Linked DNA regions of Homo sapiens. The protein of the gene in region 1 purifies or fractionates together with the protein of each later gene. This does not show direct contact. Each region holds a gene or a part of one and is shown in the gene's direction. Other genes may lie near its edges. The genes, in order: ZNF223, ZNF644, MTCL1 and PPM1G.

Region 1 (7,029 bases):
TGTGCTAATTGACAATATGAGTCCTTGTTGGTGGGTGACATCCCTGGCCACCCTTTCATGTCTCTTTTTCTGTCTTCATGGCACTTTCCAGGCACAATTCTGCTTTCCCTGGAACTGTGTCATTCAGGACTCTGCAAATTCCCTAAAGTAGGAGGAAAAATGACCATGTCCAAGGTAAGTAGGACTTGCCTCTCTTACTGTTAAAATTCCATCTCACTACTCAGATTGTTGTGTGTTTTTCTCTGCCCTGGGAAGACTCAAGGAGAACAGCAGGACTTTGAGGATCTCTTGTCACCTGGCTAATTTTTGTAGTATTAGTGGAGATGGGGTTTCATCATGTTGGCCAGGCTTGTATCGAACTTCTGACCTCAAGTGATCTGCCCGCCTCGGCCTCCCAAAGTGCTGGGATTATAGGCGTGAGCCACCGCACCCAGCCAGAAAGCCTTCATTTAAAATGGCTAGTAATACTGGGCTGGGTGCAGTGGCTCACACTGGTAATCCCAGCACTTTGGGAGGCTGAGGCAGGCGGATCACCTGAGGTCAGGAGTTCGAGACCAGTCTGACCAACATGGAGAAACCCCATCTCTACTAAAAATACAAAATTAACTGGGCATGGTGGTACATGCCTGTAATCCCAGCTACTCGGTAGGCTGAAGCACGAGAATCACTTCAAACCGGGAGGCGGAGGTTGCAGTGAGCTGAGATTGGGCCATTGCACTCCAGCCTGGGCAACAAGAGTGAAACTCTGTCTCAAAAAAGAAAACAAAACAAAAAAAGTCTAGTAATACTGAAGATTGGCCAGTCACTTGTGTACTGTCACTCATTTACTTCTCAAAGCAGCAGAATGAGGAGGTTCCTGATCTCTTCTCCTAAACTCATGAAATATGAGAAACCTGCTCAAAATCAGAGGCAATCAAGGAACAGGAATGTTAGCCATTCTGCTCAAGTGAAAGAGAGAGACGAGAAGAAAGAAAAATTCTCCACTGAGGGTCTGGTGACCTGTTGTGTGGATGTCTGGAGTGCTCCCTTGAGTGATGACATCCATAGGTGGCGCTGCTTCTCCCTGTCCTGCGTTGGTGTGACCTCTTCTTTTCCAGACCTGGCACCTACTCAGGTGTACTCATTGTTCCAAGTACCCAAGGACAGTGATTACCACAGCTGTTCTTATCTCCAAATTCCTCCTTATGGCACAAGATACCTCACACATTTTTTCTTTGGCTGGGCGCGGTGGCTCACACCTGTAATCCCAGCACTTTTTCGGAGGCTGAGGCAGGTGGATCACTAGGTCAGGAGATAGAGACCATCCTGGCTAATATGGTGAAACCCCGTCTGTACTAAAAATACAAAAAAAAAAAAAAAAAAAAAATTAGCCGGGCGTGGTGCGGGCGCCTGTAGTCCCAGCTACTCGGCAGGCTGAGGCAGGAGAATGGCGTGAACCCAGGAGGCGGAGCTTGCAGTGAGCCGAGATCGCGCCACTGCACTCCAGCCTGAGTGACAGAGTGAGACTCTGTCTCAAAAAAAAAAAAAAAATCCCTAAATTCCTCCTTATGGCATAAAATGCCTCACCATTTTTTTTTTTTTTTTTTTTTTTTTTGAGATAGAGTCTCTCTCTGTTGCCTAGGCTGGAGTACAGTGTTGCGATCTCAGCTCACTGCCAGCTCTGCCTCCCGGGTTTACGCCGTTCTCCTGCCTCAGCCTCCCGAGTAGCTGGGACTACAGGCGCCCGCCACCACACACCCGGCTAATTTTTTTGTGTGTTTTTAGTAGAGACGGGGTTTCACCGTGTTAGCCAGGATGGTCTCGATCTGACCTCATGATCTGCCTGCCTCGGCCTCCCAAAGTGCTGGGATTACAAGCGTGAACCACCGTGCCCGGCCCGCCTCACACATTGTTACCAGAAAAAATGACAACCTGGGGCAAAAATATTTACCCCTTGGATAGTTAAGGAAGAATAAATCCAGAATAAGAATCTTCTAAAAGGATAAAGAAAAAAGTTCAAACAGATTGGAACAAAGAATACTAAAAGGCAATTGTAAAAGAAGAAATAGAGATCGCCAATAATCTTGAAAAGTGGTGATACTCATTTATAATAATAAGTGAGAATGATAGAATGAATTGTTCTTCCTAATCAGATTACAAAACCATGGGAATATTTATAAACTGCTCTTGGCTATCATAAGGAGAATTAGGGTACTTGTATTCTGTTGAATGATTAGAGAGGTAGGGAAAAAAGTGAGAAGAAAGTATGCAATTATATAATGATAATATTAAATGTGCTTATTTTTCACATTTTAATTTTCATATGAAATTATTTTAAATGAGACAGAGTCAGATGTTCTTACATCTTACTACTTACCATATCATCTTGGCCGGACTGATAATGGAAAATATGTGAAATTAAATATTTATTATTTAGTGTAGCTAAAAATAGATCATCAGTTCCCTGGAATACTATGGAACCCTGAAATAGATAATGGTAATAACAGTAATAAGTAATACCAGCTAATGTTCATTAAACAGTCTGTGCCGTAGACTTTTCAAAATACCGTATATTTCTTTTCTTAATTCTTGAAAAAACTCTTGTCATGTAAGAACTATTATTCAGAGAGGGAACAAGCCTTGTAGGAAAACATGTCTGAGGTCACATGGTTAGAAATGGGCAGACTCTCAGAATGTGCACTGAGGCATTCTGGCTTCTGATCAGGACACTAAATGCTGCAATAAGCATATGTGGTTTGTGCCTTGCGAGTACAGAAGACACACTGCATAACTGTCTCAGGGTACCATGGAGCAGGTTCACTGTGCACTGATTACCAACTCGTGTGAGTCCTGTGGGACAGAACACATTCACACGCAACAGATTGCATGAAGCAGATTTATTACTACAGATTGGCAGCAGGCGAGCCCAGAAGCCTAGGGTCCAGTATGAGCTGGCCATCCAGGGCTCAAGAAAGCTACCTGGAGCAGATGGAATCTTGACTGTATGTGCCCCACTTGCACCAGAGCTGAGGCACCCCAGAAGGTAACCTGCCCCCATTTATATACTTCAGGGTGCCATGACTCATGGAGAAAAACTTGAAGGTCATCTTCCTTCCAGGTGAGAGAGGAACAAAGCCCAGACTGTCAAAGGCAGTTCCTCCCCATAATATTGCATTCTTAGAATAATCTACAGTTATTCTTGAGAACTACAAGCAATAAAGGGGAGAGAGCTGGGTGGGGTCTGCACCCCAACTGTCCTGCAGTCCATCCCCTGACCCAGATATCCCTCTTAGCAAACTGGTCCATTTCATATGTCCATCGACCTCCCCTGGCCTCCCCTGATCTTGTTAGATCAGTGTAACACCTTGACTGACACAATCTCTGCCAACTTCATGGAATTATAGCTGGAATACATTCCGTGGACCCCAGAGGAGCATGACCACAAGCAGCACAGCCAGACCTTCCTGAAGTAGTAATCCTGCCCAGGTCCCAGTTATCAAAATAAGAAGCTGCTGAAGATACCAAAGAAGAATCATTCAGGTGGCCCCAGTGTCTGAAGCCAGTGGACCTGCTTCTGGGTTGCCTCTCATTGAGTTTTTACAATAGCTATGTATCCAGAGAAGGCCGGAGGTGTTGGCAGTTGCAGACCCACTCCTCCCAGTAGGGCTAAAAGCACAGAGCACTTGTGTTTTTTGAACCTTCCTGAGGGAGTGAAGGGATGTTGCTGGGCTCCCAAGGCAGTGGCCGTGGAATAAACAGTATCTATCGGCCATTGCCTATGGCAGGTGTCTCATCATTTTTCATGGGAATTCACTTGTAGGTGTAGGACATAAATCTGGAGCTAGCTGCACCTCCAGGCAGGTCCCCAGTCAGCCTGGGGCACAGCTTTAGCCTTCTTGCCCAGTGGTGCATCTCGCTTCCAGGGTGACATCTAGGGGCACCCCCAGCATGCCTAATGTTTGGGATCTAACAGTCTGCCAGCTTTCCAGGCATGACATTGCCCACCCTGTATCTGGGTCACCCTCCAAACCAACCACAGAGAAAGCCATAAGGCTCAGGTGCACACAGCACCCATTCCCTTGTTTGGGTGTTCTGTGACCCATTTGTGGGAATGGGGACATTATCTTTTGCCAGCCACATCTCATTTTTGGCACAGTTGCATAAGGTCAGTTCCCCCAGTATGACATTCATGCGGCCCTTACAGAGAGGAATACCACTCATCCAGTCCTGGTTTTCATTATGTGGAACATTTCTCATCCAGGTAATCAAAGGAACATGGTGCGAGAAAGCACAGTCCACTGTAGCTTTGTTGAGGTTGTGTGATTCTGCTGCCTTACACCAGTTACCACAGGGCCCTCCAGCTCTCTCTCATGTGGCAGGTGCCAGGTTCTGACGTGACAAGCCAGGGTTATGGAGCTGTTGGTGTGCACTGTGGCATGAAGGATGCTGGTGTGGTTTACCATAGTCAGGATGAGAGGGTCACTGTGGTTGGTGATAGAATAAATGCAGGGTAGCAGATGGAACACTTAGCCAGGTGACATGAGGTGACTGCAGCTTGAGATAAGGAATGTGCTGTGCTTCCAGGCCTCTGCTGCCATATCCTTGGGGGAACAGCAGATTAATAGCTGTTGGATAGTGGGTGGGCTGAGGTGGTGCAGCGACCCAGTCTGTCTGTCCCTGTCCTGAGGCTACTACCATTGTAGACATCCATTCCCCTGGTTGTTTGGCTCAGACCTTCCTGCCTCAGTTGTTCAGTCAGGAAGGGACGTCACGTCCTATACAAAAAATGCCTGCTAGTGCCAGCCACCCAAATGGGATCAGGTGTCCCCAGTACCATCAGAAGGACCCTGGTGACCCCTATGGTATTCCGTGGTCTCATTCTTCACCACTGTGGGATCCCATAGAAGTCAGGGGATGTTCAGGAAAGCATCACCTCCAGATTAGAGTCAGGAGGACCTTTGTCAGTTACCGCGGTGATCTGAACCGCAAATTACCAACAGGATGTGCATTATAAAGGGGAAAAGGAAAAATAATTATTGGGAATACTGAGATTGGGGTTTCACAGCCACAGCCTCATCAACCGGCTGCCAGGTCGGGCAGATACTGACTGAATTGCTCACTGTCGCTGGGACTATTAGCAAGGTTCATTGAAACCTATATACGTGTAGCCCAGTATGCAGCATTTAGACTCCTAGGGGGCTACATACAAGTAAACTCAATGAGTTCACTAAATAAGACCACAAGACTTCTTTGTCGTTGGACTTCTGATGACGCTTGGGACAATCAAGGTGTGTCATTGTCAGGACACAGACTAGAATGAATGGGAATTCTATAAGTTGACCTACATCTCTGAAGATCCTGAAAAACTTTCCATTTTTCCTCTTGGCCTCCTCAATGTTCCTTCTCTCCCAGTAACCATTGGTAGTGAGATTGAGGTTGCATATGTTTGATGCTGTAGGAGGCAGTGACCTTCAAGGATGTGGCAGTGGTCTTCACTGAGGAGGAGCTGGGGCTGCTGGACCTTGCCCAGAGGAAGCTGTATCGAGATGTGATGCTGGAGAACTTCAGGAACCTGCTGTCAGTGGGTGAGGACAGGCATCTTCTATAAGGGAATGTCAGGCCCCAGGAGTGGTTTTGTATCCTAGGGTGTTCAAGTTTGAGTGTGCAGTGGGAACCTAAATTTCCAATAAGTGTTACCGTGATATTATCTAGAATATGTTGGGATTAAGCATGTGACTTTTCCTGTTTACAGGGCATCAACCATTCCACCGAGATACTTTCCACTTTCTAAGGGAGGAAAAGTTTTGGATGATGGATATAGCAACCCAAAGGGAAGGGAATTCAGGTAAGAAGCACGCAACTGTGTGTCCTTGTTTGTGACTTCCATCTGTTTTACTTCTGTGCACGTCCAACTCCATTACCTTCTTCTAAATGGCCAAACATCTTTGCTGGATTATGATAACCTCCTTCCAGCTAGTGGCCCTGCTCCGTGCCTTCCCACTCTGACATCTGTTCTCCTCATGGCAGCTAAAGTGATCCTTAGGACATGGATGTCAGATTGTCATTCCTCAGCTTAAGAGCCTTTCTGTCTTCTTAATTTTATGAAAGCCTCTTTAAGTTGCTTCTAGAAACCCCTGTGGTCTACTCTTCATTTTTCACTGCTTCTTGACTACATCTCCCATACTCTCCCTCATTCTCCATCTTTTCTGGCCACCTTGTCATCCCTCTTATTTCTCCATCCTGCCAAGGACACTGTATCACCTGTTGCTGGTACCCAATGACCACGAACTTAGATGATTAAATAAGAAGCATTTATTATTTCTCTGTTCTTTAGGCCTGAAGTCTGACACATCTCACTGGGAAAAAATCAAGCTGTCTTAGGGCTTTGTTCCTTTCTGGATGTTCATGGGGAGAAGGCTTCACTTTGTTTTACCAGTCCCTAGACACTGTCCACACTCCGTGGCTCTAGTTTCCATTCCTCCATCTTTGAAGGCAGCTACATTGCATCCTTGACCATTCTTCCAGAGTCATGCTCCCTCTGCCACTCTTCTTATGCCTATGTCTTTCACCTTTCAGGTCCCTTGTGGTTGTATTCATCACTCCTGTATGATCCAAGTTGACTTTCCTACTTTCTGCTTAGCTGATTAGTGACTTCAATGACATCTGCAGCCTTAATCTGCCTTGCTGTGTAATGTGTCAGAATCATAGGTCCTGAAGGCTGGATGTGGACATCTTTCAGGAACAATTATGTTCCCTACCACAGAAGCTTCTGCCTCAGGGCCCTCACTTGCTTTTCTCTCTGACTGGAGTCCTCTGTTCCCACAAAACTTACTGACCCCCTCTGTTAGTTTATGCAGGTGTCTGCTGAGTTTTAATGTCATGGAAGAGGTCATCTTCAAGCACCCTATTGAAAATACCATCCTATCTTTACTTGGCCTGCAAGTATTATGTGTCATATGCTTTTGTTTACTGATAGATCACCTGTTCCCTTTCAAATATAATCTCTACAAGGTGTTTATCTGTTTGTTTATGACTGCATCTTCAGTGCCT
Region 2 (7,029 bases), on another chromosome or scaffold:
AGAATCCATTCCTTGCTTCTCCCTGATACTGGTGGGTGCTGGCATTCCTGGCTATGGCCCATGTCCTTCCAGTCTACGAAAGCAGCATTTTCAGTTCTCTCTGCCATGTCTTCTTCTTCTTCCTCTTTTTTGGAGACAGAGTCTTGCTCTGTTGCCTAGGCTGGATGCAGCGACGTGATCTTGGCTCATTGCAACCTCCGCTTCCTGAGTTCAAGCAAGATTATCCTGCCTCAGCCTCCTGAGTAGTTGGGACTACGGGCGCGTGCCACCACGCCCAGCTAACTTTTGTATTTTTAGTAGAGACGGGGTTTCACCATGTTGGCCAGGCTGGTTTCGAACTCCTGACCTCAGGTGATCTGCCCACCTTGGCCTCCCAAAGTGCTGGGATTACAGGTGTGAGCCACTGTGCCCGGCCTCTCCGCTTGTCTTCTCATTGCCTTCAGTGTGTGTCTCGTTCTTATAAGGATACATGTGATTGCACTGTGGTCCACCCAGATAATTCGGAATAATCCTCCCTCTCAAGATCCTTAATTTAATCATATCTACAAAGACTTCTTCTTTTTTTTTTTTTTTTTTTTGCCATATGAGGTAACATTGTCAGATTTCAGGGATCAGGGTGTGGAAGTCTTTTGTGGGGCAATAGTTCAGCTTATCCCACTCAGTCGTTTATAATAGACTTTTAATGTTCTTACTTTTATTTTATAGTTTAGTTTTTAACAGGCCCCCATGTCCACTTCTGGGTTGGTGGGAGATGATGGCATTGGGTGGCAGAGAAAATATCTCATCTTTTCTAGATACGATGCAGAAAATTCTAGGTCTGTGGTTCTAGGAAGGACAAATCAGAGATGATAGTTTGGAAATAAAACAGTTAAAGTAACCTAGCTTGAGAACAGAGGTAGGTGTGGTGGTGCTATTTTTTAAAGAATAGAGAATTTAGAAGAGTCACAAGCTAGTTTCAGGTATGGGGAGGAGGAGATATGTAGAGTGTGGGACATACTGAGTTTTCAGAAGTTCTGAAATATGGTAAAATTAGTAATGGTGGATATATTTTTGGCAAATGCATGTTCAGTGGATTGTTGGTGTAGAAGTCACTTTATACTAGATTAAAGATTAAATTGAAGATGGGGAGTATTGATACATTCTATTCTCTAGAATAATGATGCTTGGCATTTAGTAAGTAATCAGTGTTGGCTATTATGATAATTACTGTGGTTGCTCTAACAAATTACTTTGTTATATACTTTTATGTGTATATACTTTTATGTGTTCCAATACTATAACATTTTTGTCTTCAGCTGTTTGGTGTGTGTCTTGATATGTACATAATATTAAATAAATACTGATCTAGAAAGATGTGTGTTTTAGTAATTATTTTAATTATTGCCATTGCCATACTATTAAAATTAATGAAAACAATTTAGAATTTTTTTTAAAAAAAAGAATTAGTTTCAATTTCTCATTTGAATAGATTATTATTTCTCAAAAAAAGCAGTGAGGTTGGGGGGCACTTAGCAATAGTTTCCTAAAGATTAAAATGATGGTATTCTGGTTGAATGGTTTTTTTATGTTATATCAAGAAATATAATTTGGTTTGTGTTTTTTCATTTAAAATAATAGTGTATTGTAGCTATGGTTATTCATGCCTGAAACAAAAAATTAAACCTTGGTCATTGTGTGTATTTCTTTCAGGTTTGATTTAATTTTGGATGAGATCGTTCTTGCAGCAAGATGTTAATAAGACAAAATCTAGGTAAGTAGAAGACTGCTTTGTTAAATGTACATATCAAGGTAGGAATAATACAAAAAAATTATGTCTTAAAAATGTGGTGTTGAGTTCAGAACCAAAGAGTTTTTAAATAAAATTTTGAAATGCAAATAATTGACTTTTTGACACACTTGGTCCAGTTGATTTGATGGGAGTAAAATTATAACTATCACATTGTGGAACTAAATTTTTAGTTTCCTTCTTTTGTGTTGAGGTTAACTAAAGCATTCAAGTTTCCAGTGAATATTCTAAAATGTTAGAAAATCAAGTTAATGTTTGGTTCAGCCACTCTTATTGAACTCTGACCACTTCAGTAAGACATTTATTGTGTCACTTCATTGTTCTCTCCTTTGTTGATAAAGTATATGAATAGTCATTGCTTTTGTGAATTTTGCTTCATTTTTAATGTTAAGGAAGCACTTTCCCAAATGGGATAAATTTGCCAAATTGTGATTTCTTTCTGTTAATATAGTATTCAAAATTGTAAATTATTGTTTTAATGTTTTCCTAGTGGGTGTCTCTACTGAATGACCTCTCTAATATAGCATTCTGATTAGCTTTCTAAGGCTGTTCACTTTTAAAAAATTGAATTGGCATCATGTACTTTGGTATGTGAAAGAATGCTTTTTAATAATATAAGCCGTTGACATGTTTTAAAAAGATACATTTACTATTTATTGGTAAGTGAATATGGCTTCAAAATGGAAACAAGGGAAAAAGAACATTGAAAAAATTGGAGTTAACTTGGTTTTCCCTCTAACCAGATGTTTCAGCTGTCAAAAATTTGCTGATCTCAATGTTTGTTAAAGAAAAAAAAAGTCTAGGATGAAAAGTGCTGTAGTTCAGTAATATGCACTGAAGGAAATCTCAGTCAGTGGTTTGGGCATGTTTTGAAGCAAAATTTTGCTTTTATTGCTATTATATAATAATAACAGTAGTGGTAGTTTGAAGAGTACTTATTGTGCTCTAAATTCTGTTAAGTGCTTGTCATACCTTATTGATCGTTATAGTACCTCCTCTTGTTGTGTAGAAAAATTTTATTTTTTGCTTTATAGTGGGCTGTTTTTCTTTAGGAATAATAATTTACTTCTGTAGCATTTATTAGAAATAACACTTGCCTATGTATCTTCTTAAAGTGGAGAAGAAGCCATTCTTTTGTACTTGAAGGTCTTATTAGGGTTTGTTTTCTAGTTGAATATACAGTGTCTGTTAAAACTTTTGTTCTGATTTTCTATGTTTGATATTGCTTGTGGGATGACACTGGTTTAACTTATTCTGACCTTATTTTTCACCATGCTTATATATGTAGTTTTTTCTTTTTTATTATGGTATAGTTTACATATATATGGTAACATAAAATTTGAGGTATAGAGCTGAATGACTTTTCACATACACATTCATATGTGTAACCACCATCTAGATCAAGATATAGAACATTTCATTACTTTGGAAAGTTCCTTGTGCTTTCCCCGCTTCCAGTCTAATAGCCTTTTCCCCTGAAGTAATCATCTTTCTGAATTCTGTCAGCATAATTTAGTTTTGCCTGTTCTTGGATTTTATATATAGTATGTACTCTTGTATGTGGCTTTTTCATTCAACATAATGTTCTTGAGCTTCATCTATGTTGTGACTATGTCAGCAGTTCATTATTTTTTATTGCTGTTTTATTTTTAGTAATATTCCATTGTATGAACACACTACAAAGTATTTATGTTTTCTCAGTGATTTGGTTTATTGGATTCTCCATATCTCTGTTCCTACTTGCTAACTTTTTTATACTCTTTTCCTTCTTCTACCTGTCTCTTTAATTGTCCCCCATCACTTTCAGAATAAAATGTAGTAAACCTTATAACACGGCATGCAGTTATCTCACCGTAGCTATGCCAGAATGCTGAGGATTATATGAATAAACTAAGTATGATGTTTCATATTCCTAGTTCTAGTCCTAGGTACATGTTGTCACTTTCCCTCAATCCCATGCCTCCCCAGTTGCCAGAGACCTCTTTGCTAGTTGTCAGCTTATCTTCTGAAATAGCCTATCTGAAGCATCATCTGATCCTTTAAGCCATGCCTGGCCGTAGTTTGTCTTCTTTATTAGAGTATGAGTTTGAAGGTAGATACCATCCATGTCTCGTTTATCTTAGCACAGTGCTGGGAATACTGTGTGCATTCAGTAAATGTTTTGTTAAACATTGACCAATGAAAAGAGTTCTCCCAGGCAAATAGAGATTCAGAATGCTAGCTGGAATGGGATGGGGGCATTGGCACTTGAGTTGCTGTTGGGCCATAGGAAGGAGCCACTGAGGATAATCCACAGACAGCATTATAGACATTTTAGAAAGAGAAATAAAATATTTCCCAAGTCTTCATTCAATCCAGTTGAAATACAGTGGCTAGTAAAATATTCTTAATTCAGACCTAAAGTAAGACTGTCATTGTTGATTTTGATTAGTATTTCCAAGTGGAGGTATTAATCCATGTTGCAGAAATTTGAAGTGTTTGCTATGAAGAGTATTTTCTTTGTGGGTTTGTACTAGTTATTTCTTTAAAGATTTTGGAATGTTAGACTAATACAAGTAGAAGATTGGGAACACTAGTCACACGTGTAAGAAGTGAAGAAAACTTTTCCTTATTTCTCTGAAGGTAAAAAACTGTTAGGATGGAGGAAGAAATTGTAGAATCATAGCCTGGAACTGTGATAACATTTTTGATTCCCACAGCTTAGGAAGCTTGCTATTTGTTTAAAGGTACTTAAATTTTTTTAAATTGTAGATATGTAATGTAGCATATATAAACTATATACTTTTTTTGTTTTGTTTTTGAGATGGAGTTTCGCTCTTGTTGCCCAGGTGGGAATGCAATGGCACAGTCTCAGCTCACTGCAACCTCTGCCTCCCAGGTTCAAGCAATTCTCCTGCCTCAGCCTCCCAAGTAGCTGGGATTACAGGCATGCGACACCACACCCAGCTAAATTTGTATTTTTTAAGTAGAGATGGGGTTTCACTATGTTCGTCAGGCTAGTCTCGAACTCCTGACCTCAGGTGACCCACCCTCCTTAGCCTTCCGAAGTGCTGGGATTACAGGTGTGAGCCACTGCACCTGGCCTAAACAATATACTCTCTTAAGAAATAACACACTTCTTAAATTTTAAAGCATTTTGACTAGTGGTTCTTTTTTTTTCTGTGTTTGAAATTTGGCTAGTTGGGTTGGCTATAGTAATCATCTGGAGATTTTTATGCCTGAAGCTTGATTGCCCTCTAGCAAGTCCAAAGCAAGAAGAGGTTCTTCCCCACAGGGATCAATTTGTTGCTTTTCCTTTCTGCAGCTTCTGCCATAATGTTTGAACACAGAGTTAGACGTTGACATTTTCTCATGCTGTTCCTTCTGTCTTCCCACAAGGGTTTTCTTAGACATAGATTCTTACCGTATATAGACCTTGGTTCTTTTTTTTTTTTTTTAAATCCTGATTGTGAAGTGTGTTTAGTCATGTTGTTGGTTAGAGTTGAGGAGCCAGAGAAATTTAACCTTGAGATTGCCTAACTTACATGTCTCCACAAAGACTTTAGACTAATTTTTCTTCTCAGAGGCTGCTAGCTGTACCTCCGTTGCAGAGTCTTCGTCTTCATTTTGTGCTTCAATATTTAACATAGGCAGCTGCTGCTAAGACTGCAGAATCCCCGAATCCAAGGATTTGAAATTCTTTATGGATATTTGTCTTAGATTAATTTCTCTAATTTCTAACTTAACCTCTCTGTACTTCAGTTTCTTTAGTAGCATTGTAGATGTGCTGCCCTTTGTTGTAGCATGAAAAAGAAGACTTTTTAATTAATAAAATTCTTTGTCCTTCATTCTAGATGAGATTGTACAACGTACATTGACCCTTTCCAGCTGTATTGCCAAGTAACAGTTAGTATTTAGTATTTCACTTTTTTTTTTTTTTTTAAGACAAAGTTTTGCTCTTGTTGCCCAGGCTGGAGTGCAATGGCACTATTTTGGCTCCCTGCAACCTCCGCCTCCTGAGTTCATGCGTTTCTCCTGCCTCAGCCTCCTGAGTAGCTGGGACTATAGGTGCATGCCACCACACCTGGCTAATTTTAGTATTTTTAGTAGAGATGGGGTTTCACTGTGTTGGCCACGCTGGTCTCAAACTCCTGACCTCAGGCGATCCACCGGCCTCAGCCTCCCAAAGTGCTGGGATGATAGGCGTGAGCCACTGCACCTGGCCACATTTAGTATTTTCAAAATATAAATTTTTTATAAAAGTCACATGTGACCTTATGAGCAAATAGTACAGCAATGTTTAAAGTAAAAAGTAAAACTCTTCTCTCCCACCCAGCACTATACTCCCCATAAGTTACCAAAAATAGCTGGTATGTATTCTACATCTTTTTCTTTCTGCTTATCAATATATTTTGGACATTTTTCCATATATTTACCACATTTATTATAACTGTTACCTTATTAATATTTAGGTAAGTCTCAGGATTTTTTGCCTGTATATAAGTACTGCTGCAATAAATATTTTTGATGGTATTAACGGGAGTGTGTGAGAGTGTCAGGATAATTTGTAGCAGTAGATTGCTGGATCAAGGATATGTGCCCTTTAACTTCTGATGTAATAAAACTGCAATGAGGTTGTACCACTTAATACTCTTATTGCTAGTTTATGAGAATATCTGTTTTCCCACATTCTGCTAAATATTTGTTTTATCCTTGCTAGTCTAATTGGTGGAAAGTGGTATTTATTTTACTGGGCATTTTTTAAATTGTGAGAGTGCTCAAAGGTTTGAAATATCACCTTCATTACAACTTAAGTTCTGTTGGAGAATATATGTGAAGATTTTTATTTTTTACTGTTAAGTCCATCAGTTCCATCAATTAACATACCTTTGTGTTTTAGGTATTACAGTCAAAGTTATTTAATATTGAATAATCAGATTATTTGCCTTTTTTTCCCTTCATACTATTTTTTTAGGATAAATATTTCCTTATGGTAAATTTCTTTATAGTTTGCTACAAACTAACATCAGCATAGCCTGTAAATAAAAAGAAAATAAAAGCCATTACTAAATATTAGGTTCATTAAGTCTAGATTGATAGCAGACTGCTTAAAATCTGATGTCTTTTACAACGCAATCATTAGAATACTTTGCTTCTTTGTGGTTATTTTTTACTATCCTTATTATGTATGATAAGCTACAGTTGTTAGTCTTAATTCCAGCTTTAATGTGAGTGAACTCCTTTTTTTTTTTAAGTATTTAATT
Region 3 (7,908 bases), on another chromosome or scaffold:
AATAATAATAATAATAATAATAATAATACAGCTTTCTGGGCTCATATCTCTTAAATCAGATCCCTGGGGATGTGGCCAGATAATTTGCATTTTTAACAGTCTCACCAGGAGATTTTAATGACCTCAAGGTTTAAGAGCCTCTTAAGTTATTGTCATTGTCACCACCAATGCCATGCACAGCTGCCAATCTGGACATGAAGCCTTTTTCAGGTCCCATGTGGCATTTTGGCAATCACCCTTGCAAAGAGAGCTGGGAGGTCCCCACAGACCCCAGTGTTGGATGCAGACTCCAGCTTCAACCTTGGCGGGTGGTGGGGAGGCGGGGGGATCAGGCATTATTAGGTTGTCTCTTTTTAAGGTTAACTTTCTTGCAGTGCCCAAAAAGCCACTCACTCTGAAAAATTCCCTCTTCTTTCCATTCTTTTCAAAGAGTATGATTTCATGATTTCTCATGACTTCAACCAGGAATGCTTTCATATTTTAAATGTGCCTTTCTGTTAAAATAAGGGGAAAAACTGGAAGATACACATATGCCTGGGTTTGGACAATGTATTAAAGGTATAGAAATTCTGCATATAATTCTGCCTGGGAGTATAGAGTGAAGTATAGTCCTGAGTAAGTCACATTTTTTTTTTTGTCTATGAGTCAAACCAAGTAAAAAAAGAATTCATTTCTCTTTATATAACTGTATAGACACAGAATAGATTTCTAACTCTCTGAGTGAGAGTTTGGAATCTGAGTGAAAAATCTGGTTTGCTCATATTTTAAGAGTTTTGAAGATTATTTCACTGGTGTTAAATAATGATGATGATTCTGAAGATTATTTCACTGGTGTTAAATGATGATGATGACTTGATAACAATACCTTACCCAAGGCCACACAGACAGCAAATGACTTGGGCAGGATTTGAACCCAGATTTACCTGGTGTCAAAGCCTCAGGTCTTGTCACCATACCACACCGTTCTTGGACAAAGAGGTTGTGAACACAGCCACACAAACATTACTCATCACACCACTGCTGCACGCAGCTCCCTAGGACAGTATTTGGGCCTCTGCAGAGGAATGAGACGATGGGGCCCTGGGCCTTGTGCCAGCATTTACAATCCAGGGTTGCAATGCAGGGAATCAGCCACAGTGAAGCAACCCGGAGATCTGCAAGCACAGGAAGGCACCACCACCCTTGATACGAGGCAGTGGAGGACGAAAAGCTACCAGGAGGAGTAGTCCATCCAGTGATGGCTGGAACCTCAGAAATCCACTCCTCACAGAGACCCAGCCACTGCCAGAGAAGCCGCCTGCAGCAGAGAGAGTAAGAAATAACCTGGTTTCTTCCTTCTGGGTCCACTCCCATCTCCTGACGGCACCTCCACTGGCCAAACCCAATCAGCAAACCCAGCGGCCTGGAAACCCACACTTCCACTCACATCAGAGTAGCAGAGGGGCAAGACTGGATCTGAGGGCACGCAGATGAAAACAGGCACGCCCATGCTGGGTTTTGTTATTTCACAGAATAAGCACTCTATGGTTCCCTTAAATAGTAAATCCTCTATTACCTTTAGATTAATTTGATTTAACAGAAAAAGAATTTAAAATCAAGTATTTCCTTTCTTTGCTCCCTCCTTCCCTTCCTCCCTTCCCTTCCCTTCTTTCCCTCCCTCCCTCCCTGCCTCCTTCCCTCCCTTCCTTCCTTCCCATTTTTTTGAGACAGGGTTTCACTCCCATCACCCAGGCTGGAGTGCAGTGGCATGATCATGGCTCACTGCAACCTCCCCTCCTGGGCTTGAGGGAGCCTCCTGCCTCAGCCTCTCAAGTAGCTGGAACTACAGGTGTATGCCACCATGCCCAGCTTATTTTTGTATTTTTGTGTTTTTTTGGTAGAGACAGGATTTTGCCATGTTGCCCAGGCTGATCTCCAACTCCTGAGCTCAAGCTATCTGCCCACCTTGGCCTCCCAAAATGCTGGGATTACAGGCGTGAGCCACCACGCCTGGACCACTTTTTCTTTTTCTTTTCTTTTCTTTTTTTTTTTGAGTGACTTTAAAAAACATCTATTATGCAATCAGATATCTCTTTATACCTGTAACTCACTGAATACTGGAAAACAAAGAAGGCATTATTGGCTGGGCTGGGTGGTGCATGCCTGTAGTCCCAGCTACTTGGGAGGCTGAGGTGGGAAGATGGCTTAAGCCCAGGAAGTTTGACTTCAGTCTGGGCAACATAGCAAGACCCCATCTCTTAAAAAAAAAAAGGAAGAAAAAAGAAAAAAAAAGAGAAAGCATTGATTGAATACTTCCTTACAAAGGGCTAGTAGTCTCATTTGCCAGGCTAATAATAAGTAGTAAGGAGGATGAATTTTATCTGACTTATTACCTGAAAGAAAGAGAAGCTGGCTGCAAATCCTATAGTCATCAAGCTACTGTCTTTAGAAGACTAGCGTATTGAAACTTTTTTGGGGGGCCCTTTCTTTGAGTGTATATGGTATGAGAAGCTGGCAAGCTTGTGCTGAGAGTCCTGGCCATAATTCTTCGGAAATGTGAGGGTGTGGGAGGCTTCAGAGCCTCTGGAGGAAGTTCTAGGCAGAGGTCAGTTGTGCTCTGGCCCGACCGCGGGCCCCCTCCCACGGAAGGGCAGAGCTAGAGGGCCCTCTGGGGACAGCAGGCCCGGCGCGAGCGGTGGCCAACACCTCTCAAGCCTTTCGAGGTGTGCCGTCATCCACGCCCACCGTGGAGCCAACAGTGTCCTTCTCCCAACGCTGGAGAAACGGCTAGGGCATTAGCCTCAAAGGAGATTAAGGAATTGGATTTCGTAGAGATTGGATTTCGTGCGTGCTGTCTCCCATTCAGAGGCATTCCCAGAAAAACGACTCACAAAGACCACAACAGCAGCAGAGCAGGCGAGGTCTCAGTGCCCCCAGAGCTCAGCCAGGGCGAGGCAGGACGACTTCGGGGCAGGGCTCTCCTGACGTAGGGATTACAACAAAAGGGTTCATCCTGCATTTTTTGAAGGAGATGGCTAAGTAGGGTAAATCTGTGGTTAAGATCACAGACTTTGGAGTCGATTTTTTCCTCCTATTTTTGCGAGTCGGCCCCCTCTTCTCTGTCCCTGCTCCCAAGGCCCCCTCACCGCGCATACTGCCACAGCCGCTCGCAGCTCCCGTGGCCCACCTCCCTCTCCTCCAGGTTGCTGCCCCCGGGGTCTTTTTGAGCACATCAGATCATCTTGCTCAGAATACCCCGTGGCTACCGCCTCTAGGATAATGCCCAACGGCCTTGGTAGGATATTTGGTGCCACACACCCTCCAGTCTCCCCTCTAATCCCTAACCTACCTGCCTCCCCGCCCAGGGGCCCTGCTCTCTGCAGGCTCTACTGTGTCCTGGGCCCTCAGCTGAGAGACCAACCCGTCCTTCCAGGAAAATGCGAGCCTCACCAGGCAGGGTTATGCTCCCGCCCTCCTCCTTGTAATTATTACCTGACCCTCTGCCTCCTGCAACGCCAGGGCTGGAGGACAGGCTGGCCCCTATTCCTATGGGCACTGGCCAACATCCAACGCCTGGGACATAAACTGCACCCAATGGTATGTGAACTGTACTTTACAGTTTGCACGGTGTGTTCTGGTATTTGCTAAATCTTCACACATGCTCAGGTGGCAGTACGTTTTAATGATACAGGCGAGGGAACTGGGGCTCAGAAAGGTCTAGTGCCTTGCGCATGGGAGACTCAAGTGGTAGAACCGGTGGCCGGGCTCCGGGCTCTGAGCGGAAAGCCTGCAGGACTCGGAATCCTGAAGACCTGGGTTTAAACCCGCTCAGCTAGGGACTGGGTGAGGCATCGCAGGCAAGTGACTTCACCTCCCAGCGCCGGTGCCCTAGTCTTCACCGAAGACAGCAATTCCAATCTGGGACTGTGGTGAGGCTTAAATAAAACACTGCTCAGTAAGTGGCCAGCAGGCCTGGCTCGCAGCCGGAACTATAAATGTGAGTTCCCTTTCTGACCCCCAGGTTTGGCGAGGGCTCCTCCTGTTTGGGCAGCAGCTCCTCCTGAGCTCCCGAGGCCACGGGGGTGCCAACTGTGGAGCGCCCGCCGTGCCGTTTAGACGCGAGAGCTGCGTCGGGTACCAGCGATCCTTAAAGGAGCTCGGGGACCAGGGGCACAGCTTGGAGAGGACAGCGAGGGAGGTGACTGGCCTCGGGGAGGCGGGCGGTGGATGGAGAGGCATGAGAGGGGTGTTGTCAGCCGCGGCACACGCCTTCCCCAAGTGGCCGGCGCCGCCCCTTGCCACCACTTCACCTCCGCCTCTTCCCTTCCTCCCTAGCTCCTGGCAGCGTCTCTAGGGCCTCAAAAAGCAAGGAGGGTCCCCGGGCAGCGAGGCCCCATGGATCCAGCCTGCGCCTGCTCCCAAGGGCGCGCAGGTCCCGCCCCTGCCGGGCGCCCGCCCCCCGGGGAGCGCAAGCCCCCGCCCCTTCCCTCGCCCCTCCCCTGCACGGCGCCGGCTGGCTGGAGGCGGGGCATGCGCACGGGCCTGGGCGAGGGCGCTGGGCGGCGGGGAGGTGGGGCGCGCGCGTGCGGCTTCTCTCAGCCGGGAGCGGCGGGGGCGGGCACGGGCAGCAGCGGGCCGGCGGTGGGCGGGGAGCGGGACGCGGGAGCCGGGCGCGCGCCGCCAGCGCCGCCGCGGCACCGGTGACCGCGAGCCCGGAGCGCGAGGTCCGGGGATGCGAGCGGCCGGGAGCCGCCGCGCTGCTGAGCCGGGAGAACTCGATCCGCGGTGACCTCAGCGAGGGGCGAGCGCGGCGGCGGCGAGCCCCGCGGGAATCCTCGGGGCCGGGGTGCGGGGGGCGGGGACGGCGGGAGCGCGGGGCGCAGCCCGGGCGGGGCTGGGACAGTGATGAGAGAGCGCGCGGGGAGGCTGCACGCCGCCGCCGCCGCCGCCGCCGCCGTCGTCGTCCGGAGCATCTGCTGCCTGAGCTGCTGCCGGCGGACCCGGCCATGGAGACACTGAACGGCCCCGCGGGCGGAGGTGCCCCGGACGCGAAGCTGCAGCCGCCCGGCCAGCACCACCGCCACCACCACCTCCACCCGGTGGCCGAAAGGCGGCGGCTGCACCGTGCGCCCTCGCCCGCCAGACCCTTCCTCAAGGACCTGCACGCCCGGCCCGCCGCGCCCGGCCCGGCCGTCCCCTCCTCGGGCCGAGCCCCGGCTCCCGCCGCCCCGCGCTCGCCCAACCTCGCGGGCAAAGCGCCGCCCTCGCCGGGGTCCCTGGCCGCGCCCGGCCGCCTCTCTCGGCGCAGTGGCGGCGTCCCGGGCGCGAAGGACAAGCCCCCGCCGGGCGCCGGGGCCAGAGCGGCGGGCGGTGCCAAGGCTGCCCTGGGAAGCAGGAGGGCGGCGCGCGTGGCGCCCGCGGAGCCGCTGTCCCGGGCTGGGAAGCCTCCCGGAGCCGAGCCGCCGTCTGCCGCTGCCAAGGGCCGCAAAGCCAAGCGCGGCTCCCGGGCGCCACCCGCCCGCACCGTCGGCCCCCCGACCCCGGCCGCCCGGATCCCTGCCGTGACCCTCGCGGTGACCTCGGTGGCCGGGTCCCCGGCCCGCTGCTCGCGCATCAGCCACACGGACAGCAGCTCCGACCTCTCTGACTGCCCCTCCGAACCCCTGTCCGACGAGCAGCGCCTGCTCCCTGCCGCCAGCAGCGACGCCGAATCCGGCACGGGCTCCAGCGACCGTGAACCCCCACGAGGAGCGCCGACGCCGAGCCCCGCAGCCCGAGGAGCGCCGCCGGGCAGCCCCGAGCCCCCAGCGCTCCTCGCCGCGCCCCTCGCCGCGGGCGCCTGTCCCGGGGGCCGGAGCATCCCGAGCGGGGTTTCGGGGGGTTTCGCGGGGCCCGGCGTGGCGGAGGATGTCCGGGGGCGCTCGCCACCGGAGCGACCAGTCCCCGGGACCCCCAAGGAGCCCAGCCTGGGCGAGCAGTCTCGGCTCGTGCCAGCGGCGGAGGAAGAAGAGCTGCTGCGGGAGATGGAGGAGCTGCGCTCGGAGAACGACTATCTCAAGGTGAGCCGCGCCTCGGCCGCAGGTGTCCCGGGGCGCCCCCGGAGGGCCTGGCTGCGGCGGGGACCCGCCAACCCCTCCTTCCCGGGCCTGTCCAGCGCCTTCTCCCTCCTGCTCTCCACGGTCCTACCCCCGCATTGTCAGGCATTGGCAACTTAAGCCCAAACTTCTGGAAGGAGAAGCAAGACCTGTGGGACCCCGCCAGTTCGCAACCCACTTCTCTTTTCTCGCGTCTAGAACTCTTGCGTCTCTTCGCTGATACTTTTACTTTTGTTGACCTGTTGGGGCAGAGGAGGCTGTAATCGTTTTGGGGACATCAGCGGACGCCCCCATCCCCGCTCAGAACGTGCCAGCCTCACCTGTAGGAACAGGTGATCCTTCGCCAGGGAGCTCTAGCCGGGCCACGTGCGGGCGTGGCGGTTCAGGATAATGCCACTGGAGGGCCCCCGGCTACGGACCCGCTTGCCCCTTCTCCTGCAATTACGGAAAGAGCTGGGGGCTCTCAGGGTCTCCTGGGCTCCGACATCCCGGGTAGAGGGGGCCGCGCCGTTTTCGGTGAGCAAGCTGAAGCTCAGTAGAGGTCCTTGGAGTGTGGCCCGGGTTGAGGAGCAACGGTGTTGCGCGGGCCAGTCCTTTGTAAGCATCCAGGAGCCGGCTTTCTGTGTCAGGAGAGGCCACGCCAGCACTTTCTAAGGAATCGCGGCGCCTGCTGCACTCTCTGAGTATTTTCCGGCAGGGCCTGCGGGCAGTGGCGTCTTAGTCGCCTTAGCACTGGGTGCTTAATCCGGCTCCATCTTTTCTCCACGGAGGGGGCCTGGTGCTGCAGACGGGGTTCCCGGGGTCAGGACGATCCAGGTGACTTGAGAGAAAATAAGGGGAGTTGTATTGACACCAACTGTTTTATTTATTGTGATCTTCAGGTTAGTAAACAACTCCAGTGGCATCAATCTGTGTATCTGTTAAGTCTTAATGAGCAGCCAACCAAACCCAGGGGTGTGGCCCTGCTTCTTCAGTGGGTTATGTGATTTGAGCTGTTTTCTCAGCAAATGATGAGCTAACCAATACGGGCCCAGTTTTTGGCTAGTGAGATTGAGGATTGGGCTTTAAGGTGCATGGTGGTGAAGTCTGCAGTTCACACGGAAATCAGAGCACATTAACTGCTGGGTGATCTCAAGCCTAAATTTCTTATGGAGCTGCTCCAACCAACTGAGCCTTGTGGTTATTTTACTTTGTGCAAGAAGTAACAGTGAGGCAGAGAAAGAGAGGTGATAAAAGAAAGATTGGGACTTAAAGCAAGATATTTCAGATAGTATGTTTGTTTTTGTCACTTACTCTTAGGTAATAGACAACGGAGTGAAGTTCAAAGGCAACTATGTTGTGGGTGACTCCATCATGAAAGCAGCTCTTTTGTAAATCTTCAACAAATGTAAGCTCCCTGAGGGTGACCAAGATAATCTTGTTGTTTTTGTATCCCTGGCTCTTAGCATAACCCCTGACTTACTTTCTGATTGAATGATGTTTATCCAAATGACTGCTGTGCAAGGGAAAACTGTATTTCTTTAAAGAAGTTTCTCATTGCATCTTTGATCTTAAGGTAGGCTATCCATCATTTTGAAGTTCATTCTTGGTGCAACTGGTTATTTCCTTTATTTTTTCCCAATGAATGAAATGTGTCTGAGCCTGGAGTCTGATACAGTGTATTTGCTATTTCACTGGATCTTCCCAACAACATAGGGTGGTGGTGGTGGTATCATGATCATAACTAGTATTTCACAGACGGAGATGCTGAGAACCTAAAACAGAAATGACTTGGCCAAGGTCATAGAGTGAGTAAGAGGTGGCACCTGCGTTTCCCCAGAGCCTCTGCCCATTT
Region 4 (4,922 bases), on another chromosome or scaffold:
ATGATGTTCTCCTGCATTGTATGTGGTTATGAAAAGGAGGGAGAGAATTATCTTCGTTGAGTGGCATCTGAGCTGTAAGCATTGTATATACATTATCTTTTGTCATTGTGATGGGGTCTTCCTGGTTCCTGCTAGTATTTATGTGCTTTTTTTTCCCCTCAAGACTGGAGCAGTTATTAGCCCCAATAGCCAATCATTAAGCCTAAATCCTAATTCACAGTAGCATTGTGGGCTTCCTGGATCCTCAGCCAGAATAGGGTTTTTACAACTTAACAATAAAAAATGAGACGTCAGAGGGGAAGTATAGTAACTAGTGTTGTTTTGATTAAGAAGGGGATGAAACACAAAAACCAAAAGAAGTCTGTGGAGGAGGAGGAGCTAGGGCATGTTCTTCTGAGACTTGAGCGAGAGGAACCTTGGGAGTGGGAGGTTGTGGGGAAGTTAGAGGCTGCAAGGGCTGTTGAGGTAGTGAGAGGGACGGATCCCATGAGGAGTCTGGCATGGGGGCTCTGATTTAGCCTCTTCCCTGCAGTGGACAATGAGGAGGCTGCACTGCTGCATGAAGAGGCTACCATGACTATTGAAGAGCTGCTGACACGCTACGGGCAGAACTGTCACAAGGGCCCTCCCCACAGCAAATCTGGAGGTGGGACAGGCGAGGAACCAGGGTCCCAGGGCCTCAATGGGGAGGCAGGACCTGAGGACTCAACTAGGGAAACTCCTTCACAAGAAAATGGCCCCACAGCCAAGGCCTACACAGGCTTTTCCTCCAACTCGGAACGTGGGACTGAGGCAGGCCAAGTTGGTGAGCCTGGCATTCCCACTGGTGAGGCTGGGCCTTCCTGCTCTTCAGCCTCTGACAAGCTGCCTCGAGTTGCTAAGTCCAAGTTCTTTGAGGACAGTGAGGATGAGTCAGATGAGGCGGAGGAAGAAGAGGAAGACAGTGAGGTAAGGGCCTGTGAGGGCAGGCAGATGCTGAAGTTGCAGAGAGGTCCTGTTTGGTTGCCGTCTGTAGTTTTCAACTCTCTTTCCTTCTCCTATTTTGACATCATCCCCCAAGACCCACTGTATTCTAAGCTTTAGTCTTGAATTCATTGAGCTCCATCATCACAGGTACCATTTGCCTTTTTACCTCTTCCTTTGTTGGTACTATAACAAGCAGATCTAGTTCTGGCTTTTCAGAGTCTGTCTCCTAGAGAGAGAACAAGGAGATAGTTGTTACCTTGGCTAGTTGACTGTTTTCTTCTCTGGAAAATTTATTTTCTGGCCACAGTGCCTGAAAGATATTTTTGGCTGGCAGCCCTTGCCTTGTCCTGGGCTTTTTGCTAGTGACTGCTAAGCCCAGTTCAGGATGTCAGTTGTACTCATGCTAGCCCTTTCCATCCCCCCAATTTTCATGACCATATACTTGTATCTTTCAGTGTTTTGAGGACCTGTGTTCAGTCAGGACCTCTTGATTCTGAGTATGAGCTGTGGGGAGGGAGGGGATCATCCCAGTCTCAGCAGTCTGGGATCCTCCCCCTGGCAGGAATGCAGCGAGGAAGAGGATGGCTACAGCAGTGAGGAGGCAGAGAATGAGGAAGATGAGGATGACACCGAGGAGGCTGAAGAGGACGATGAAGAAGAAGAAGAAGAGATGATGGTGCCAGGGATGGAAGGCAAAGAGGAGGTGTGTGGGGAAGGGGAGCAATGAGTCTTGAAAAGCCACAAGGCAGGTGTGAATCCCCTAATTTTGATTTTGAGACAGGGGATCCCCCTGATACTTTAGGATGGAAGTAATAGTCATGGGGATTTATTCTGCAAGGGGAATGAGATGGTAAGCCTTTGGGGTTGAATTATCTAAAAACAAGGGAGAGGGAGTGTGCTGCTGTCTCTAGAAAGATGAAATGTGTGCTTCTCCTGTTTGTTAAAGCTCTTTTGGGGGTCCCAGTGAAAGCAAGCATAGGTGAACGATCAGGAGCACATCAGTGAGGAACGCATGTTCAGAAGCCCCCATGATGCTCCTTTTCTTCCTCTTAAGCCTGGCTCTGACAGTGGTACAACAGCGGTGGTGGCCCTGATACGAGGGAAGCAGTTGATTGTAGCCAACGCAGGAGACTCTCGCTGTGTGGTATCTGAGGCTGGCAAAGCTTTAGACATGTCCTATGATCACAAACCAGAGGATGAAGTAGAACTAGCACGCATCAAGAATGCTGGTGGCAAGGTCACCATGGATGGGCGAGTCAACGGGGGCCTCAACCTCTCCAGAGCCATTGGTAAGGGCCAAGAAACTGGGAAAGACTTCTAGGGTCTTTCTCTCTGTCCCAGACTACCTAGTAGCAAACTTTAATCTTCCTAGTGCTTGTGCCTTTCAAAGCACTTTAATATCTACTACCTCTGTTCTTATATTTCTGTGAAATAACTAAGATGGGTAGAGGTATCATTATACATAGGTATCATTATACCCATCTTATGTAACATTTGAATGATGAAAAAGACCTGTGAGTGCCGGGCGTGGTGGCTCACGCCTGTAATCCCAGCACTTTGGGAGGCTGAGGCTGGTGGATCGCCTGAGGTCAGGAGTTCGAGGCCAGCCTGGCCAACATGGTGAAACCCCATCTCTACTAAAAAAAAAAAAAAATACAAAAATTAGCTGGGCATGGTAGTGCAAGCCTGTAATCCCAGCTACTCAGGAGGCTGAGGCAGGAGAACCGCTTGAATCCGGGAGGCGGAGGTTGTAGTGAGCCGAGATCGTGCCATTACACTCCAGCCTGGGCTACAAGAGTGAAACTCCGTCTCAAAAAAAAAAAAACAAAAAAGACTTAAAATAAAAAGACCAGTGAGTGACTTTCTTAAGGTTCAGCAGTCTGGTGGCAGGGTTGAAACTAGAAAAACTAGGACTTAGGACTCAGTTCCCCATTCCACTAGATTATGGAACTTTGTAAAGAAGGGAAATGAATGGCAAGGTTTGACCTGCCACAAACACAAGTCTGTGGGAAGTATCCAAACTGCTCATCAACCATTCCTTTACTCCAGGGGACCACTTCTATAAGAGAAACAAGAACCTGCCACCTGAGGAACAGATGATTTCAGCCCTTCCTGACATCAAGGTGCTGACTCTCACTGACGACCATGAATTCATGGTCATTGCCTGTGATGGCATCTGGTGAGCACTGGCAGAATGCCCTAAATTCCCCTTTCTGCAGCATGTCTTCTCTTATAGGACTCAGGGCACCTCTAGGATTAGAGCCTAGGCAGACCTAGGCCTCTTGGTGGGTGAAGAGCACCCAGACTAAGGCAGAGCTGAGAATTTCTGTAGTTATTTACACTGGCCTGGGCCACCACCTCTGTCCATACTCCTCTACGCTGCCTTAGTGAGACTGGAAGATTCTGACTGTTGTTCTTGACCCCAGGAATGTGATGAGCAGCCAGGAAGTTGTAGATTTCATTCAATCAAAGATCAGCCAGCGTGATGAAAATGGGGAGCTTCGGTTATTGTCATCCATTGTGGAAGAGGTGAGTACCAGGGTGGAGAAGAGAGGGTGTCTGGTCTGCACAGCCAGGGTTCACTCTTTTAATCTGAGCTAAGTCGGCAATCTGGGAGCATTATCAGTAATTGCTGACAGACGCTAAACCCCGACTCCAAAGTTCCACCTTCTGTCATTTCCCTGACTTAGCCTTATGCCTTATGGACTAGCAGGTGGGCCGTTGTGTGATACCTCTTGCCCATTCCTCTCCTACCACCCTGACTCAGCAAGCCAGCCCTCTTGTGGGACTGTAGATTCCTGGCAAGGTGTTCAAACCCTGTGGCTGAGCTACCCCCATCCCTTTCTTAGCTGCTGGATCAGTGCCTGGCACCAGACACTTCTGGGGATGGTACAGGGTGTGACAACATGACCTGCATCATCATTTGCTTCAAGCCCCGAAACACAGCAGAGCTCCAGCCAGAGAGTGGCAAGCGAAAACTAGAGGAGGTGCTCTCTACTGAGGGGGCTGAAGAAAATGGCAACAGCGACAAGAAGAAGAAGGCCAAGCGAGACTAGCAGTCATCCAGACCCCTGCCCACCTAGACTGTTTTCTGAGCCCTCCGGACCTGAGACTGAGTTTTGTCTTTTTCCTTTAGCCTTAGCAGTGGGTATGAGGTGTGCAGGGGGAGCTGGGTGGCTTCACTCCGCCCATTCCAAAGAGGGCTCTCCCTCCACACTGCAGCCGGGAGCCTCTGCTGTCCTTCCCAGCCGCCTCTGCTCCTCGGGCTCATCACCGGTTCTGTGCCTGTGCTCTGTTGTGTTGGAGGGAAGGACTGGCGGTTCTGGTTTTTACTCTGTGAACTTTATTTAAGGACATTCTTTTTTATTGGCGGCTCCATGGCCCTCGGCCGCTTGCACCCGCTCTCTGTTGTACACTTTCAATCAACACTTTTTCAGACTAAAGGCCAAAACCTAATCGTACGCATCGTGTCCTTTTTTTTCTGCTGCCGTGGCCCCCGACTTGGTCCCATCTGTAGCATGTGGCGAGCCCCCATGTGAGTGTGTGCGTGTGCTCGTGTGTGTCCTGCGCGTGTATAGGAGAGCCCAGAGCGAGCTGCTGGTAGGCCGGCCTGGCGGGCGTCGCGGCTGCCCCTCGCCCCCTCCTGCAGCCAGAAATGATCTAGTTCCCCCAGGGACAGGTTGGGACCGGTCTGGCTGGCCTGAAGCCTGGAGTCGGGCAGGACGCCTCCTGCGCTGCTCCCTGGCCGGCTCCCCGCTGCCGCTGATTGGCTTGCTCCCCGCCTCGTCACAATCACTTCCCGGTCACGCCATTGAGGCTCCCGCCGCGGCCGCTTCCCACGGACTACGCGTCCCGTGCGTCTCTGCGGCGGCGGAAGCGGAAGCGAGTACGGAGGTACCAGCTGGTCTCCGTAGGGGGGTAGGGGGCTCCATGAATGGAAGCGGCGGCGGCGGCGG

What was found.
Region 2: the proteins of ZNF223 (region 1) and ZNF644 purify together in Homo sapiens (affinity purification with mass spectrometry; 2 studies listed by BioGRID and IntAct, with this or other methods). This does not show direct contact.
Region 3: the proteins of ZNF223 (region 1) and MTCL1 purify together in Homo sapiens (affinity purification with mass spectrometry; 2 studies listed by BioGRID and IntAct, with this or other methods). This does not show direct contact.
Region 4: the proteins of ZNF223 (region 1) and PPM1G purify together in Homo sapiens (co-immunoprecipitation; 2 studies listed by BioGRID and IntAct, with this or other methods). This does not show direct contact.

What each region holds. Positions count from the first base shown.
Region 1 is NC_000019.10:44,055,018-44,062,046, forward strand, and holds part of ZNF223 (zinc finger protein 223), read left to right. Parts: intron 1-91; 5' UTR 92-159; coding exon 160-174; intron 175-5,437; coding exon 5,438-5,564; intron 5,565-5,731; coding exon 5,732-5,824; intron 5,825-7,029. UniProt on the Homo sapiens protein: May be involved in transcriptional regulation.
Region 2 is NC_000001.11:90,977,031-90,984,059, reverse strand, and holds part of ZNF644 (zinc finger protein 644), read left to right. Parts: intron 1-1,689; 5' UTR 1,690-1,706; coding exon 1,707-1,750; intron 1,751-7,029.
Region 3 is NC_000018.10:8,700,676-8,708,583, forward strand, and holds the start of MTCL1 (microtubule cross-linking factor 1), read left to right. Parts: upstream 1-4,880; 5' UTR 4,881-4,985; coding exon 4,986-6,038; intron 6,039-6,082; exon of another isoform or gene 6,083-6,464; coding exon of another isoform or gene 6,465-6,590; exon of another isoform or gene 6,591-7,461; intron 7,462-7,908. UniProt on the Homo sapiens protein: Microtubule-associated factor involved in the late phase of epithelial polarization and microtubule dynamics regulation.
Region 4 is NC_000002.12:27,380,699-27,385,620, reverse strand, and holds the end of PPM1G (protein phosphatase 1G), read left to right. Parts: intron 1-532; coding exon 533-948; intron 949-1,528; coding exon 1,529-1,669; intron 1,670-2,020; coding exon 2,021-2,255; intron 2,256-3,015; coding exon 3,016-3,145; intron 3,146-3,392; coding exon 3,393-3,495; intron 3,496-3,815; coding exon 3,816-4,022; 3' UTR 4,023-4,422; downstream 4,423-4,922.